2 separate regions of the Homo sapiens genome follow, and region 1 is linked to region 2. Evidence: fine-mapped expression QTL. A gene starts in region 2. The other region holds a variant in brackets. All regions are shown on one strand. Distances are between the middles of the regions.

Region 1 (5,378 bases), 48 kb after region 2:
CATTCCTTTTTATTACTGACTAATATTCTGTTGTATAGATAAACCACACTTTGTTTATTCATTTATTAGTTGTGGACATTTGGGCTGTTTTTGCCTTTTGGCTATTGTGAATAGTGCTGGTATGAACCTGCATGTACATGTACTTGAGTAGGTGTTTTTAATTCGTTTTGGCTATTACAGGGTTATATGTAATTTTGTTTAACTTTTAAGGAGCTCAAGTTACTTTTAAAGAGGCCAGCATTATCTCATGTGCCAAGAAATCATGGACTAAAGATAGGCAGGTGGATTTGGGTGAAAAGTCACTGAATCCCTTTGCATGAGCAGTTTAGTGGAAGTGGGGTTGGGGAGGGCCCCTGACTGTAATGAGTGCATTGGTGTCCAGCCTCTAGGCCTCCACAGGAGCCTCCAGAAAGTATTGCTTTGAACAGGGTACCACCTGCTCAGACCCTCCACATTTTCTCAAACCATCCAGGATTTTTCCTCAGCTTATCTTCTCCTACTAACCACTACAAATTGCTTCTCAGCTGAACTACTACACGACATGCTCTCTGCATGAGAAACGCTTAGATACCTTTTCCTTGAGCTGTTTCCTCTTTGCCCAACAGATCCTCCTTGTCCTTCAAATCCTCCCTCAAATGGCAACATGCAGCTTCCCTGGAGGCCTTCTTCCAGCCACCCTGCTTCCTCCTTCCCTGAGCCTCCATTTCTCTTTGGGAGGACCACTCCTTGGGACTTTTCCTATTTCTCCTTGAGGGTCAACTGTTTCTGGTCCAGGTCCCAGGCCCCTGCATATCACTGAAGCTTTTCAAGGGGATTGGCTGTGACTCCTACAGCTTCTGGCCCCATGCTTCACACACTTGAGTCCTCAGGAGAGCTTGCCTGTCATTGAACTTTTAGGAAACACCCACTTCCTGTGAGCTTTTCAGCAGGGTGGTCCTCTTATGTGTTAACTTTGTTTCTCCTTTGGTTAGTAGTGTGCTTGGAAAATGGGGTTATCCTATCAAGAAGCTGTACCCCAAATTCTCTTGAAACTAAAGGAAGTAGCTCATTTGGAACTTCCTGCTGTTGGCCGTCATCCAGAACCTTCTAGTTAGACCCAATTTGTATCAATTAGTCCACAGAATATTGGTTGTCTGTTTTCTCAAAGAAAACCTTTCTGAAGTTTTTCGGGGATAGTGGTATTTCTTCATGGCACTTTTTTTTTTTTCCTCTAGTTAACTAAAGCTTTATGATCTAAATGGAAGTTGGGTCACCCTTGTATTGTTTAAGAAGGGTGTACATCAGTTACAATGTTGACTGATGTGGGAGGTTTTGGTGGGTGGAGCATTCTCTATATAATCCTTAAGCTTTCTGAATATACATGAAAATGAGTTAATCTCTTCCTCTTTTTTCCCCACCCTTCCTGCCTAGCTTTTATAAAAAGGCCTTCTTCCAAAGTCTCTTCTCCTTCCCCCTCCCTTTCTGCCCTTCCTGTCTTGGGATCTCTGTGTCTTAGGATGCTTTTTCCTGTGTAAGGTCACCTCTTCTTCCTGGTAGGGCATGTAAACATTCATTTCTTGGTTTGGGGCAGCATTGGATTCTGGGAATGATATTGTGTACCTGGCTTGTTGATTTAAAAATTTGATTTGGACAATTTTTGCTCTTTATAAGATTTGGTCATTTGTTGTATTTTGGTGATTTATCTTGAAATTGTTCTTTGCTTGTATGTGAAGCTCTTGCTTCCTTGACTTATTCCAAACAGAGATGGTGGCAACTGGGAACTGATAGTGATTCAGCAAGTACTTGTTGGTTTGATTTAATGTTTTGCTGACAAAAAACATTAAAAAACAGAATTTTAGATAAAGTTTTATAAAGGTGTATTCAAATATATTTATCTAAGGCATTTTAAAAATAGAATGGTCTTTCCTAAGTATAAAAATAACTTTATATCATGGTATCATGTGCATCTGCTTCTAGAATCCTAGAGACCCTTGTTCAAGATAGAGAAGAAAATTTGTCCCTTGGCATAGTGATTGCATTTGATTGTGACATTTGGTCCCAAACAGTTCTGATTTCCTATCCTCAGAGGAAGCCTTTGACAAGTTGCCTCAGTCTACGGTTCCTGAGATGCAGCGTAGTAATTTGGCACCTGTCATCCTGCAGCTGAAAGCACTAGGAATTGACAATGTCCTCAGGTTCCACTTCATGTCGGTAAGTCCTGCCTGCTGTCTGGGGCCATAGGGAGGCTAGGGAGCTCACAGGGGGATGTCAGGACATTGTCGTAGGGCATGCCATCTTTCCTTTTTTTCCCTACTCAGGTCATGTGTTGTGTGTCTGCTTTGCAACCAGGCCCTGTGCAGGACGTAGGGGAA[A/G]ACAGCCAGACAAGGTAGCCTCAATTCCTATTCTTACATAGTTCCTGTTCTTGTCTGCTGGGGAATAGAGACAAGTAAGTGGGTAATTACAGAGCAGTGTGCCCAGGGCTCTGAGAGACAAAGGAAGGGCCTCCCAGGTGAAACCTGAAACCCAAATAGAATCTCACCAGGTTAGGAGTGGAGAGTTCCAGGACAGCTAGTCTTTGTAGAGGCCTAGATGCAGGAGTACCATGATTGGGGGATCCTTCCTGCAGCTTTAGATAGAGCTGCAGGAAGACCCTTGTGCCTGATTGCTTCCTGAGATGATTTCTAGGAGTAGAATGACTGGGTCAAAGGGCCGTTGTCCTGTTTAGGGTCCTGTTACATGGCCAGATTGCTTTACCAATGTCAACTCTAGCAGTGCCTGAATGCCCACCTTGTGGTACTTCCATTGTGCCATGTTATCTTCTTTGGGTTTGCTGATTTGATTGGCCAGAGAGAGGAAATCACCTTTATTATAATTATTTTTAAATTTTTCATAAGATAGATTTTTATAAAAACATTTATTAGTCAGTTTTTATTTCTTCTGAGTTGTTAAGCTATTTATCTGTTAGAATTTGTGTCAGTTAGTGATTTTCAAGAGTCCTTTGAATATTAAAGACATTAATTTTTATAATATTTCTTACAAATATTTTCTATTTATATTTTACTGTTTTTTTTTTAATGTGTGGACATTCTAAACATATTCACAGTAATCTATTTTTGCCTTTATGATTTCTTTGGCTATTCTTTTTTTCTTTCTTTATTTTCTGAGACAGTCTCACTCTGTAGCCCAGGCTGGAGTGCAGTGGTGCCATCTTGGCTCACTGCAACCTCTGCCTCCCAGGCTCAAGTGATTCTTGTGCTTCAGCCTCTTGAGTGGCTGGGATTACAGGTGTGTGCCACCACGCCTGGCTAATTTTTTATATTTTTAGTAGAGACAAGGTTTTGCCTTGTTGACCAGGCTGGTCTCAAACTCCTGAGCAGGTCAGGTGATCCACCCCGTCTGGGCCTCCCGAAGTGCTAGGATTATAGGCGTGAGCCACCACCCCCGGCCTCTTTGGTTATTCTTGCCCTTATGAAGTACTTCTTATATTTGGGTCAGTTAATACATATTCTCTCATATTTTCTTCTAGAATTTTTATGATTTGAGAACTTTGTTTTTTCCCAACTGTATATGATATGACAAGTCTGGAAAGTCTGGATTCTTGGATAGTAAAGTCCCTAATGTCATATGTGATGGTAAACTAGGTGAATGAAAGAATAGAACATACAAATATCAACTCCCCCAAAGAAAATTGTGTACTTACCATAAGTATAGGGAAAATGGACCCTTTGATTATTGGTGTAGAGTAGAAGATATTATAAAGAAAAGATAAACAGGCTGAGCGTGGTGGCTTATGCCTGTAATCCCAGCACTTTGGGAGGCCGAGGCAGGTGGATCACTTGAGGTCCGGACTTCAAGACCAGCCTGGCCAACATGGTGAAACCCCGTCTCTACTAAAAATACAAAAATTAGCCAGGCATGGTGGCATGCGCCTGTAGTCCCAGCTACTTGGGAGGCTTGAGGCAGGAGAAACGCTTGAACCCGGGAGGTGGAGGTTGCAGTGAGCTGAGATTGTGCCACTGCACTCCAGCCTGGGCAATAGGGTGAGACTCTTTCTTAAAAAAAAAGAAAAGATAAACAGTATGTGCTGATTTGAAAGCTTATGAAAAGCCCCGCATGTAAAATTAAAGAAAAACATACAGTGACAGAAATGACAGATCAGTATCTCAAAAAATATGAAGAGTTTTTATATGCACATCATTTACAGTAAATATTCACTAAATAAAGCTAAAGGAAAAAAACAGCACAAATTCAAATTTCAACTATCATTAGGACATGTTGAGCTTCTCTAGGAGAGAGGTGACTGCACGTTGATATAGCTATAAAGGATGACTTTACACTAATTTTTTTTTTTTTTGAGACAGAGTCTCTCTCTGTCACCCAGGCTGGAGTGCAGTTGTGCGATCTCAGCTCATTGCAACCTCTGCCTCTTGGGTTCAAGTGATTCTCGTATCTCAGCCTCCCAAGTAGCTGGGACTACAGGAAAGAGCCACCATGCTCGGTTAATTTTTTGTATTTTTAGTAGAGACGGGGTTTTGCCATGTTGGCCAGGATGGTCTTGAACGCCTGACCTCAGGTGATCTGCCCACCTTGGCCTCCCAAAGTGCTGGGATTACAGGTGTGAGCCACTGTGCGCAGTTGACTTTACACTAATTAAATGATTGAGTATAAACAAAAATGGTGAAATCGAAAACTGCCACAATTTGGGAAAGTAAATTCCTCCCATGTTATACCGTTTCTGTCCCCATGGAGGACTTTCTGACAACATTTAATGAGCCGTAGAAATGTCTGCTATTTCTTCTCATAAAAATTTCTCCTGAAAAAATAATTCAGAAGAAGAAAAAAAGCTTACATATGTGATAATGCTTATAGCATTTATATTACATTTAAAAATATAAATAATGAAAATTATCGTAAAACTTTTGGACAGTTGAAAAATGAAAAAAAAAATACAAATTTATCTTCACATATTTCCTTCTGGTTATTATCCCCTGAAATTGTGGTTTTTATGATTGAAATTACAGAGTACATATAATTTTGTATATTTAGCAATGTTATTTACAATGGTGAAAAACTGGAACAATTTAATTGCCCAGCAATAAGAAAATTGACTTTTTTATGGAGTATGATTGTCATAGAGTATTATGCAGCCATCCCAAGTAGTTACTGTGAAGTTTGTATGGGTGCAAGAAACAATGAAAACAGAAAAACATGTAGTGAGAAGACCACACTAAAACTATACATAAACAGTAATTCCAGATATGTTAAAACAGTGTTTCTGTATTATCCCAAATCAGTTGAGGTCACAGAGAAATACTAGTGAATGTGATTAGATGAAAATACTATGGATAAGATTTTTGTGGAGAGGGGGATAAGTTTTTTTTGTTAATTGACTGGAAATC
Region 2 (5,378 bases):
GAAATAATCTTAAAAGTGGCATTTATTTCATTTTGCCTTATATTCATGTATAAACCTTGGTTTCCGTATTTGGGCTGTTAGTAAAATAAGACAAAAATAAAACAAGGAAAAATCAATGTCATGAAGAACTAAAACTAAGCCTAAAGCATGATGTTTATCTGTATATTACTCAATAGGCACTGCTACTGGGCTACGAATGTGAATGTGCCATGGTCCTCGTCCTCAGTAAGTTCCCTGTGTAATAGTGGCGGCAGGTAAACCACAGATCAACTAAAACTAAGCCTAAAGCATGATGTTTATCTATACATTACTCAATAGGCACTGTTATTGGGCTACGAATGTGAATGTGAATGTGAATGCTGACATGGTCCTTGTCTTCAGTAAGTTCCCTGTGTAATAGTGGCGGCAGGTAAACTACAGATCAACTAAAACTAAGCCTAAAGCATGATGTTTATCTACACTCAATAGGCACTTGTTACTGGGCTACGAATGTGAATGTGACATGGTCCTCGTCCTCAGTAAGTTCCCTGTGTAATAGTGGCGGCAGGTAAACTACAGATCAACTAAAACTAAGCCTAAAGCATGATGTTTATCTACACTCAATAGGCACTTGTTACTGGGCCACGAATGTGAATGTGACATGGTCCTCGTCCTCAGTAAGTTCCCTGTGTAATAGTGGCGGCAGGTAAACTACAGGCAACTAAACTACAGGTCACTTTTCTCACAAAAGTGAGAATACAGTTCCTAGACTACAAGGGGGAATGTTTAAGTTGGATAGATAATTTAGAGCTAGCCCTTTAAGGGATAAAGATAATTTAAAGGATGGATGGAGAATTCTAGGCCGAGGGACTAACAGATATTGAGTCCCTACATTAATTACTATAAAAATAAATCAAAGAAGATTCTTACATGAACCTATGCAGGTAAATTCAGATTTTTTTCCCCCTGGTGGATTTGCTCTGAGTTGAGGTAATGAGAGCTAACATTGATTCAGTGCCTGCTATGTTTTGCACTGTTAGGTACTTTACATGTTATCTCATGTAATACCTCTTTAAACCTCATTTTACAACTAAAATTAAATGACAGCTAGGAGCTAGGAAATGGCAAAGTTACGATTCCAAGTCTGGACTGGTTGTCCACAAAAGCCCCTGCTCTTGCCATAATGATGCCACTTCTTTCAAAGAATTCAGAATTTTCTTCACAGCTTTAAAAATGCATAGATTCTGAAGCCTCTCACTTCCTTCCAATTAGTTGCCTACCTAGAAAGTTATTTCCTCCACTTGAGCTCATCACCCCTTCTTAGCGCTCCTTTGGATTACTGTAATTTCTTTTTCTTTGACCTCACCTTTCGTCTGATGGATTAGTGTAATCTTTCCCAAATTTGTTAATCTGAAGAATTCAGGAGCTTCTCAAAATGCAGGTTCCCAAGCCATGCTCCAGGACATCGATTCAGAATTGGATCAAGGCCTAGAATCTGTGTTTTTAACAAGCATTTGACTCAAGGGTATCAAATTGGAGGAAGCACTGAGTTGGTGGACTACCTTAATTGATCTACCCATTTTCAGTCTCTTCTGCCAACCCATTCGCTCCACCCCACCCCCAGTCCGTTTTTCCGTTTTGCCCTCAAGGTCCCTGAAGACTTCCATATCATTTCGCATTGTTTTATTTGGGGCACTGTGCCGCACTACCTGGGCCCACAGCAGGCGCGCAATATTTACTGACAAATACAACCCACGAGGTAGTTCCTATTATTACCCTTCAATTTGAAATTGAGAATAAAACAGAAGTCGACAAGTTGAGGTAGCTTGTGACATCAGTATTTCGTATTTAATCCAGAAAGCACTGCTTCAACGCCCAGTGCGTGCAAGGTTCCACTCTCGGGCCAGCGGTCCTCTCCCAAAGCCCGTTCTTCCTAAGTGTGCGGCCGCCATCCAGGACACGCCACGCTCGTAAAAGGTCACCTGAAGCATCTACCCTCCACGCTCAAGAGGTAGGCGGAGGAGCGCGCCCTTTTCTCCAAAATGGCTGAGCAGGGTCACGTGGGCTCGGGGGCGGGGCCGGTGCGCTCGCCGGAGCCTGGAAGTGGGTCACGTGGCTCAGACGGGGGCGGTAGCTGTGGGGGCGTGGCCGTCACACGGCGCGATCCGTCTGGGCAGCGGCTCTTCGGGGGCCACGCCCTCCGGGCCCTGGGGGCCTAGCGCGCGACGGTGGGGTGGAGCTAGCCTCGTGACCTTTTACCCCAACATGGCTGCGCCCGTGGGACCGGTGAAGTTCTGGCGACCCGGTAAGGCCCTTGGTGGAACGCTGGGCAGATGCGGCGGCCTGACTTCGGTCTTGGCGCCGCGGCCGGCGCCCTGGGGCCAGCAGACCTGCTCGCAGGCCTGACCTCGGCGAGCTGGGCGCTGCCGCCTCTGTGCGGGGGGAGCTCTGGCTCAGGCTCCCCAGTGGTCCCGAGGGATTTGGGGGTGCTCCCCTAGCGTGAGCAGAAACTCTTTGTGACCTTGTTAAAGTGGTCCAGCCTCCTCAGGCCTCGTCTTCCTCGTTACTGATGCTTGTCCTGCCCACCCCGCGAGATGGGGAATCCTAAAGCTCCCTCTCGTGTCTCGTTAGCGCCCTGGGGTTGCGCTGTGGCCCGACAGACAATGCTGCTCGCTGCTGGAGGCTTGCAAGCCCAAGTTATGGAGTCAGACTGTCCGGGTTCGAATTTTCGTCTCTGCCTTGTAGTAGGGTGACCTTGGGCGAGTCACTTAATGCCTCTGAGCCATGACTTCTTTACCTGTAAAGTGGGCAGAACAATAGCTTCTATGCTGTGGGCTTAAATGACAAGCAGAACGCGTTGTCAGACTTAGAATAAATGCTCAAAAAAAGGGAAAGTGTGTTATTTTCTTTTAGGATAATTGTTGTCCACTCCGAATGTCTACTAGAAAAGGGAACAGTCCTTCATATTGGCTGCCAGCCACTTCCTCTCTTACAGACTAACACGAATCACAATCACAAAATGCTTTACTTGTTTTGTCTTGATATTTACTCATTAATCAGGTTTTTACTGAATGTGCATATGCCAGACCGTACTAGATGCATTACTTCCTCTCTGCAAACAGTTTCTTGTAAAAAACAAAAGTTTTTAAATTACAGCTACCAGCTTGATTTTTTTCTACCACCTGCACCCCTGCAGGTCTGGATGTGCAAAGTATATTGCAGCAAAAATGAAATGACACCAAGAATGTAATATAAGCAAAGCTTTTAATTTTTCAGTGGTTCTCTGAAATTCTGACCATGCATATAAGTGATGTGAGAGATAAACCCAAGCAAGAGATATGTTTAATGCTTTTTAAAAATTTGTAGTCTGTCACTTGACAGTTTTATGGTTCAGCATTTCAAGTCATCAGCCAATTATCCATCCTGAGTTTTATTTGCATCCAAAACTAGGAACTTACTAAGTAATGAATACTTTTAATTTATTCACGCTTTTAGTAACAGGTGAAAGTGTTAGGTATAATAAAGAGCTGAATTAATTGTTTGAAATCAGACCAGGGTACTATTTTGGTTAAAGAACGTGGAATTACTCTTAAGAGTTCTATTTCATTATTTAGTTCATCCATTGAGGGTACACTTATTGAAAACCTAATCCTGTGTTCAGGAGACAAATACAGATGCTCAGGGCTCTGCTCTCAAGTTACTGTCTCTCTCTTAATTGAATATAAAGTTAGATGTCCTCTAGAAGAGATTTTACAATGAGACAGAGTAAGGTGGTGGTAAAGAAGATGAGCTCTAGAGTCAGACTGCAGTGCCCATCATGTCTACCACTTACTAAGTTGATGACTTGATAGTCACTTAAATTCTCAAAGTCTCAGTTACTCCATCTGTAAATTGGGTATAATACCTACCCTACCCAAAGTAGTGTTGTGAGGTTTAAATGAGAATAACACACAACAGGATCTTGGCACTAGATAGGTTACTATTATAATTATATGGAAGTATGGAAGAGGGAGGGAAAGTTGAATGTATGGATAAGAAATACTTCATTAAGGTGGTATTTTTGGAGTGAACATTAAAGGATGAATAAGGTTTTGTTTCATAGAGAAATGGAACTCGAAGCAAAGGGTGCAGCATGAACAAAGGCAGAATGGGATTTGTGCCTTTAGAATGTCCAGAAAGCCAAAATAACAGAGCAGTGTGATAGTGTTAAGTGCTAGGGTATATTTTGGGGTATGACAGGAGATGAAGCTAGAAAAGTAGGTAAGGGCCTCATTGTGAAAGGTCTTCATGACAAGTTAAAAAGTTTAGACTTCACTGTTTTTTTGTTTTCTTTCTTTTTTTTTTTTGAGATGGAGTCTGGCTCAGCCGCCCAGGCTGGAGTGCAGTGGCGCAATCTCGGCTCACTGGAACTTCCACCTCCCAGGTTCAAGCGATTCTCCTGCCTCAGCCTCCTGAGTAGCTGGGACTACAGGTGTGTGCCACCACACCTAGCTAATTTTTGTATTTTTAGTAGAGATGGAGTTTCAGCATGGTGGCCAGGATGATCTCAATCTTTTGATCCCGTGATCTGCCCACCTCGGCCTCCCAAAGTGTTGGGATTACAGGCGTGAGCCACTGGGCCTGGCCTGACTTCAGTGTTTTTAAGCAGGAACAAATCAGGTTTACTTTAGAAAGATAACACTGGCAGTGGAGTAGAGAGTGGATGGAGGAGGAAATTAGAGAAGGTACTAGTGAAATCCAGGAGGGATGTTAAAAACCTTAATTCTGACCTGGGAGCTTAGAGGAGGTGCCTGTTGGAGAGACATTTTAGAGGAAGATGTGGGAGAAGATGAAGTCAGTAATAACTCAGATTTCTGGGCTGGGTGACTGTCTAGGTTAGTGATTCTCTAATTTTGCTTTATAGTTGAATCACTTGGGAAGCTCTGAAAAGTCCTGATGTGCACTTGCACCTCACACCAATAAATTAGAACTTTGGAGGCCTAGGAGCCAGGCATCAGTGTTTTTTAAAGTCTCTAAGGAATTCCAGCATGCATCAAAATTTGGGAACCACTGGTCTAGGTAAATTGTGTTGTCATTAGTTGACATGGGAATAGCTTTAGTACACAGTTATTGGGCCGTTGCTTTGTGTTAGTCACTTTCATTTACACATCTTATTAAACAGTCACAGTATCTCTGTGATGACAGTAATACTCTTATTTTAGTGAGGAAATTCAAGATATGAAGTAGGTTGTGGGAAATGCAAGGTGAAAGTCAGGGAAGCTGATATAAGGCTAGACATTCAAATCATGAACATATCCTGTAGGCCTGAGCCTGTGATTACAGAGGTCTTTCAGACAGTCTAAGTGAGTGAAGTTGCTTACTGGAGGTAATAGGGAGTGGTGGGGACTGTGGCAGAGTGT

Evidence for each region. PIP is the estimated chance that this variant, and not a neighbour inherited with it, causes the effect.
Region 1: its variant is fine-mapped to the expression of DHX35 in whole blood (TOPMed, PIP above 0.99).

What each region holds. Positions count from the first base shown.
Region 1 is chr20:39,008,215-39,013,592 of GRCh38, forward strand. It overlaps DHX35 (DEAH-box helicase 35), which reads left to right. Exons shown (of 22, transcript NM_021931.4): 13 at 2,066-2,190. Among named protein-coding and RNA genes, the nearest start is that of DHX35, 49 kb to the left of the region's middle. The variant A/G (reference allele first, on the strand shown) is at 2,352.
Region 2 is chr20:38,960,124-38,965,501 of GRCh38, forward strand. It overlaps DHX35 (DEAH-box helicase 35), which reads left to right and starts at 2,221. Exons shown (of 22, transcript NM_021931.4): 1 at 2,221-2,284. The coding sequence starts at 2,245. RefSeq lists a silencer at 2,086-2,205 and an enhancer at 2,246-2,555.